2 linked regions of the Homo sapiens genome follow. The protein of the gene in region 1 purifies or fractionates together with the protein of each later gene. This does not show direct contact. Each region holds a gene or a part of one and is shown on either strand. Other genes may lie near its edges.

Evidence for each region.
Region 2: the proteins of PXYLP1 (region 1) and GNPTAB purify together in Homo sapiens (affinity purification with mass spectrometry; 2 studies listed by BioGRID and IntAct, with this or other methods). This does not show direct contact.

Annotation. Positions count from the first base shown.
Region 1 is NC_000003.12:141,287,260-141,291,078, reverse strand, and holds part of PXYLP1 (2-phosphoxylose phosphatase 1), read right to left. Parts: intron 3,766-3,819; coding exon 3,626-3,765; intron 1-3,625. UniProt on the Homo sapiens protein: Responsible for the 2-O-dephosphorylation of xylose in the glycosaminoglycan-protein linkage region of proteoglycans thereby regulating the amount of mature glycosaminoglycan (GAG) chains.
Region 2 is NC_000012.12:101,820,866-101,824,684, forward strand, and holds part of GNPTAB (N-acetylglucosamine-1-phosphotransferase subunits alpha/beta precursor), read right to left. Parts: intron 1-3,819. UniProt on the Homo sapiens protein: Catalyzes the formation of mannose 6-phosphate (M6P) markers on high mannose type oligosaccharides in the Golgi apparatus.

The sequences.
Region 1 (3,819 bases):
GGGTCCTACTGTGCATGAAGAGTATTGAGAACAGAACTCCCCCAGGAACCCAGGAACTAAAGGCTGGAACAGGATTTAGCACTTCCAAGACGCTTTGCAAAAAAACATGCAAACCGTGAGAGACAAACATTAGATTCCGTGTCTCACCCTAGTTCACTGCGGGGCCTATTTTATTTGGTTAGGCCACATAAAGTTAGAGTGCTTACTGTGTGCCAGGCCTTTCCCATTTAATCCTCACAAAAACCCAATGAAGAAGGTATATTATTATATTTTATATTTTCCTTATTTTATAGATGAAGAAACAAAGGCCCTGAACCATTTACAGTTAAAAAGTGGCAGAGCTAAAACCCAAGACCCCATCTGGTCCTAATTTTATGCTCTTAGACCCTTACATTTTCATGCCGAAATACAAAGTTCTAGCTATTTAGGGCTTCTTATACTTGCCAAACATAGCCTGCATCTTCATGGCTTTGTTCATACCGTTCCCCTTTCTCTCCCTAGGGAAATCCTCCCAGGGCCTGGCTCCAAGCTCCAACACTACCTGCTCTGTAGTGCTTTCCTTCTTCTTCTCCCTGGTCAAGTTAATAATTCCTTCCTCTTCCCATATGCTGCTGGACCATGACAACATCAGCTGCATTTATTGGGAGCCTCTCATATGCCGGCACTGCACTAGGCACTCTACACATGCTACCTCATCAAATTCACCACCAGCCACTGGGAAGACAGGCTCCTCCCCATGCTACAGGTCTGTCTGACTCCAAGGCCTGTGTTTACTCTCTAAGGCCCTGCAGTATCTGGCATTACAGGCAGTTGTCTCCACGCACATTGTGTGCTGCAGTTGCAGCCTTCTTTAGGACAGGCAGGAGGGTCCTATTCATCCTGCTACCCTCTCACACTCAGCAGCTGCCAAAGCATCTTCAACAGGGTAGGCACTCATGAGCAATCTTACCTTACATAGTTACTGTAGGGTGCCGTAAGTGCACCAGGGACAAAAGATGATTATAACAGCCATGCATTTTTCATGATATTTAAAATAGAAATAAAAATGACCATTAAAAGAGAATGAGGAAACAGGAGCAGACAGTATTACAAAAATGATTTCTAGAGTAACACTAATTTAGAAACGATGATGATGATAGATGAATTGAGAAGAAAGATCTGAATGAATGATTAGGTGTGTGAGGGCCAACCCCCCAGCCTCTTCTCAGGTAGCAGCTCCTGGATCCAGAGACTGGCGCCCTCACCTCCTGTTCTCTGCACAGTCACCCTGACCTGTTAGCCAGGGCTGATGGATGCTAACCCCTAGGACCTCAAGGATTCTCCCTCTCTCAAGAATTTGGATTTGCAAGTTCATCTGTGTGTGTGGCTGGGACTGTAATTTTGTTGACAGACACAACAAAAAATTAGAGAGAGAGGCAGGGACAAGACAGCTTTTTTATTCCTGGTTCCAGTCTCTAGAGGTCTGGTCACACTCTTGATCTTAGAGTCTGTGAGTCATTCCTGAATTCTTATAATAAATTTCCTTTTTTTGCTTGAGGTGTTTTCTGTTATTTTTAACCAGAGAATCTAAGCAGCAGTTCTCAGCAAGAGTGCTACTGCCTTCAGAGAGGGCTTGGGGGTGGAGTTATCACAATAGTATGGGGAAAGGCATTCCTGGCACCTAGTGGGTAGGGGCTGGGGGGCTGGTCTCCAGAAGGGACACGTGTCTCTGTCCCACACAACTTTTGAATGCAGCATGAGACATTCCATCACGTGCAAAACATATTTGAATACTTTAGACTGTAGAATCTAATTCTGTTTTTGTGTCTAGAACACAAAACCATTTTTGTATAATATTAATGTTCACTGAATTTTCCAGAAATACAATATAAACTAAGGAACATCTATATTTTGTTTTGATCAGAACTTCAGAAAAACCATGTCCTGACATGTGGTATTAAGAGTCAACAATACAGCATCCATCAATCATCTGCATTTGTAGTTGTCAGAGTCACATTTAGGTACAAGCATTTGAAGATTTCATTCTATTTTCTAGTGTAGCTGTTCTTAAGCATTTATACAGAGACACATATAATTAGGTAGTAAATTAGTTTCTTTTCATTTGTTATCGCTGGGGACCCTGGTATAACTTTTAAGTAATTAACTGCATAGAAAGATTACATTCATTCATTCATTCATTCATTGAGACAGGGCCTCACTTTGTCACTCAGGCTGGAGTGCAGTGGCATGATCATGGTTCACTGCAGCCTTGACCTCCCGGGCTCAAGTGGTCCTCCCGCCTCAGCCACCTGAGTAGCTGGGACTACAGGCACATGCCACCACACTTGGCTAATTTTAAAAAATTGTTTGTAGAGATGGGGTTCCACTATGTTGCTCAGACTGCTCTCGAACCCTCAGGCTCAAACGATTATCCTGCCTCAGCCTCCCAAAGTGCTGGGATTACAGGCATGAGGCACCATGCCTGGCTGGTTACATTATATTTAAATTTCACTTCATGATAGTTGAGGGAGATTGCAAAATAGTTAATTGTGTAATCAAAGGGGGTGTTGGATCTGCTAGGATGAAAACCCTCGTTCTAAAGTAATGCATGTGGAACTAATTGCCAAAGGCTTTTGACACAACTCCTTATCCACGGCTAGTCCTCCAGAGGCTTCAGCTTGTTCCACTCTGTCTATCCAATATCATTTCCCCAATAATAATGGCAAAACCTAAGAGGGCCTACTATAGGATGGAGACCTTCCCTCCATCCCTGCTGAAGTCCTAAGATGCTGATGCAAGATGAAGACAGAACATGGCCAATGGGTCTTCCCAATTCACCCATAAAGGCTGGTGACCAGGCAAAGGTCCTCTGAGGTTCCAGATTGAAGAATCAGAAAACTGAAACCTCTTGAAGGACCACCTGTTCCTCTATTCCCAGCAAAGGTGACTCCACAGTTAACTCACCAACCTACCCTGATGGTGAACTGACTGCACATGGTCTGACTAGGGCTGCGGAGGGAAAGCTGTGCTTCTGTGAGAACTCAGCTCAGCCAAACAAACTCCACATGCAGTAGAAATGTGCCATGCATTTTCCTCCCTGAGATCTTGTACATGAAAACCTATTAGAAGTTTTGTTAGAAATATCTGAGAACATGAGATTAGTTAAATAAATGATCAATTGCCCATCCAGAGTGAAAGAATATGGCGCTATCATAAATGATGTAGTGGATAAACAGTTATTCATAGGGAAATATTAACAAAATGTGTTGTTGAGTGGAAAAGTGGGTTATGAAATAGTGTGTTTAGTAAGATGTGTGTGTGTGCATAAGCACAGGAAGAAGGGTTACTCTTAAGGGTCTATTTCTGTGGTGGAATTACGGTTGCTTAAACTTTTTCTTCTTTTTACTTGTCTTTCCTAAATTATTTTCATGAACACGTATTGTTTTTGTAAGAAGGAGAAAGGTTCTATTTAGTTTTGAGAACTCTGATGTTTATTTAGAGGCCCTGGTGACCGAGCTCCTTGCAGAGCCAGTCCTTGCTTACCCCCTCTGAGCTGCACAGCACCCCGCCCAGGAGAACTGCTCGGAAGGTATGCAAGCAGAAGAGCGGGTGGGGGAACCCCTGAGCGCATGGGGGTCACACATACCTGTCTGTGTGAGCTCTCCCATCTCACACAATGGGTGATTTGGGTAAAGAGGCAAGGAGTTCAAGGGGCTTTCGAAAGAGGCTCCGGATCCTTTTGACATGTGACTAATGAAAGCTTCCAGTTTTGGGTGATACGGTTTCCTAGAGAGATGATAGAGAGAGTTAGAGGTCAGAGTGCTCCACAAGAATCCAAAC
Region 2 (3,819 bases), on another chromosome or scaffold:
TGGCCAACCAGTGAAACCCCATCTCTATTAAAAATTTAAAAAGTTGCTGGGCGTGGCAGTGCAAGCCTGTAATCCCAGCTACTCAGGAGGCCGAGGCAGGAGAATCACTTGAACCCAGGAGGTGGAGGTTGCAGTGAGCCAAGATAGTGGCCACTGCACTCCAGACTGGGCGGCAGAGTGAGACTCCGTCTCAAAAAAAAAAAAAAAAAAAAAAGCAAGCATCTCCTGATCCCCTGCCACCAGACCAAACTGATTCTCACTGCTGGTCTCTTCCACAACGATGCTCTATTTCTTTACAGCATTTCTCACAATAGTAATGAAGTGGCAGTTAATGTCTGACTGCACCACCAGAATATAAGCTCCTTGTCAGCAGGAGCCAAGTCTGCTTTGTTCACTGCTGGATCCCCAGGGGCCTGGTACAGTGCTCAAAAATTAAGTAGTCACTGAATGAATGAGGCAGGCACTCTGCCAGGGCACAGGGATTTGAAGATAAGGAAGATTCCATCTTTGTGACCAGGATGCTGAGCACAGAAATAGCAAATAAGTTTCATCTCCCAGGCAAGCTCAATTAACTGGTAACCAAATTGAGAAGCTGTGCATGTAAAAATAAGTTTCTTCTGAGGCAGCAAAATACAAGATACCACATTCCAAAGTGAAGTGTTGGGCCAAGATGCAAAGTTTCTTAAGGAACAGTTGCAGACTCATCCAAATCATGGTAGAAAGGTCCAGGAGGTGGCGATCAGAGGAGGTTTTCAGAGGTAGCTGGCATTCTGTGACGCCTGCTCCACCTCATTCAAGGGGGAGCAGTGGAAGTCTGTTTCCCACTTCCTTACGCCCAAGAAAAGGGCTCAACAAAATTACCAAGAGAACTCACTATGGGTCCATGAAGTTGGGTGGGTACCATGTCTGTGTAACACCTGAAAAATATAAAGTGCTGGCTGGCTAATTGCTCTGAGGACAAGAGAGAAGTTGTCACTCCGCTGGAATCAGCCCACCCTCCCCTAGTCTGAGCAAAGGACGTGGGCCACATACAACAAAGAACCAGCAGAAGGTCACCCTGGGCCTACTCACTGGGCAAAAGAGGCTGAAATGAGAAGCTCCCATTATTATCAGATTCTTAGGATCTATGGAAGGAATAAGCAACCAAACGGAATGAAGAGGCATTTGGTCTCATCAGGGGAAAAGCAGGTGACCACTCCTGAGCACGGCGGTGGCTGTGGTCTCTGAAGGATGCCCCTTGAAAACACTCAAGAAAGAATAAGCTCTGGCCGGGCGCGGTGGCTCACGCCTGTAATCCCAGCACTTTGGGAGGCCGAGGCGGGCGGATCACGAGGTCAGGAGATCAAGACCATCCTGGCTAACACGGTGAAACCCCGTCTCTACTAAAAATACAAAAAATTAGCCGGGTGAGGTGGCGGGAGCCTGTAGTCCCAGCTACTCGGGAGGCTGAGGCAGGAGAATGGCGTGAACCCCGGGGGGCGGAGCCTGCAGTGAGCCGAGATCGCGCCACTGCACTCCAACCTGGGCGACAGCGAGACTCCGTCTCAAAAAAAAGAAAGAAAGAAAGAAAGAATAAGCTCTAACACCTGCACAACATCCCAGAGAGCTCCTGCACTCATTCAGGAAGAAGTTTCCTGTCCTCATTTCCTTCCTTTCTTTCATGTGCTCCAACACAGGAGGGATCAGAAACAGGTTACAGAGCAGAAAGAGAATCATCAAGTGATGAAAAGTGAGAAGATGCCCACTGTGGCCACCCTCCCTTCCTCCACTGCAGGCTTTCTCCCTGCAGCAGGCCTGTACTGGGAGAAGGAACTTAGGCTTTAAGTTCTGTTATGCTTTAGGACTGAAGACTCTAATTGCTGAATTCACATTCTGTTCTGTAGTGTGAAGTGACCACAGAAATATCAGGCCCACCTGAATTTTCATCCAGGGGCAGGGGTGCAAGACAATACAAAGAGCCAGTGGAAGATAAAGAATAAAGGGATTGGCTACACATCCCACAAGGTGTGCTTATTCAACATGACAATTACAGCCAGCTGCCTACCCAGCATCACTTATCTATTCTTCTTCCATAAAGGAACCTACCCCTACATAACAAATATTTGGGAGACCAGTCCCGAGATTCAGAGGTAGGTCAGATTGGTCTAAAAGTAACCCCTTTCTCCTTTCAAGAGATTTGCTTAAGAATGGCTCTATAAGCATAACTGGGACCAATGCCAGGAAAGGACTGCTGAGGTCCTGGGTCAAGTTCTTCCTCCATCTTCTGACAGTCCTCTCAAAAGTTGGAGGAACACCAAACTGTTAGAGAAATTATTCTGAAACTATATCTGGGCTTAGGAACGGAAAAGTGCCATGATGAACAAGGCCGAGTCTTAGGAAGGCAGGGTGCCAGGTATGCGGTGTAGGCAGCTGGTAGGAAGTGTGGATCTAGAGCTTGTTGGAGAGGCAGCAGGCATGGTTAAGGCCAGGCGCAGTGGCTTATGTCTGTAATCCCAGCACTTTGGGAGGCCAAGACAGGCAAATTGCTTGAGGTCAGGAGTTTGAGACCAGCCTGGCTAACATGGTGTAACCCCGTCTCTACTAAAAATACAAAAATTAGCCAGGTGTTGTGGTGGGTGCCTGTAATCCCAGCTACTCGGGAGGCTGACACAAGAGAATCGCTTGAACCCAGGAGGTGCAGGTTGCAGTGAGCTGAGATTGCGCCACTGCACTCCAGCCTGGGAGACAGAACGAGACTCCGTCTCAAAAAAAAAAAAAAAAAAAAAGTCAGGTTAAGTTTTTCTCTCACAATGTGATAACATTCATTAACAAAATGAACAATATTTAGATCTCAAGAGAAAGACCAAATGCAATTATCAAATCACCATATAAGTTAAAGGTATATATTTGATCATCACTGAAAGATTTATAACGGCACACTTGAGCTGTGTTTAACAAAGCTCCATATTAATATATCCATGCAAGAAAACAAGTTTCCCAGATAGATTAATTAACCAGATATTAAAAATAGAAACAATCTACTTTACAACTTCTAGAGCAAGGTAAAGGGCTAACAGCTATCACAGACACAATGTCACCAGTAAAGCCAGGGAGAGGAAATGGGTTTTGACTGAAGCCAGTGTCTTCAAGACATCTGTTGTTCCGGCCCTTCTTTGGGTAACAGCCTTGTGATTATCTTCTGAAGCTCTCCTCTCAGTTCACGTGGTTCAGTTGAGACTGACAGCCCCACCCACTCCCCTATTTCTGGAGACGATCCCAGTGGTTAACAAGGGTATAACAAGGGCACTCATTCCTCTGGCTAGGCAGGCAGCCCTGGGTCTAGTTGGCACTAATGAGAAAGAAAAGCTATCTTTCTGCTGCAGTTACTGAACTGGTAGAACAGAAGGTGGGGTTGCCAGCAGCAATCCTTGTTCTCATATGAGGAGAGCTTGCTGAGAAGTAAACTAAAGAGGGGAAGGCAGAGGTGAGAAACAGGGACAAAAAGAGATTCCTGATGACATCATTTGAGCACCTCGATCCACTCCTGCCAGAAATTTCACCATATATATATATATATATATATATATATTTTCTTTTTTTTTTTTTTTTTTTTGGTTAACCTTTTTGTTTTGTTTTGTTTGAGACAGAGCCTCACTCTGTCGCCCAAGCTGGAGTGCAGTGGCACAATCTTGGCTCACTGCAACATCTGCCTCCAGGGTTCAAGCGATTCTCCTGCCTCAGCCTACCAAGTAGCTGGGACTACAGGCATGCACCACCACGCCCAGTTAATTTTTGTATTTTTTGTAGAGACAGGGTTTCACCATGTTGGCCAGGCTGCTT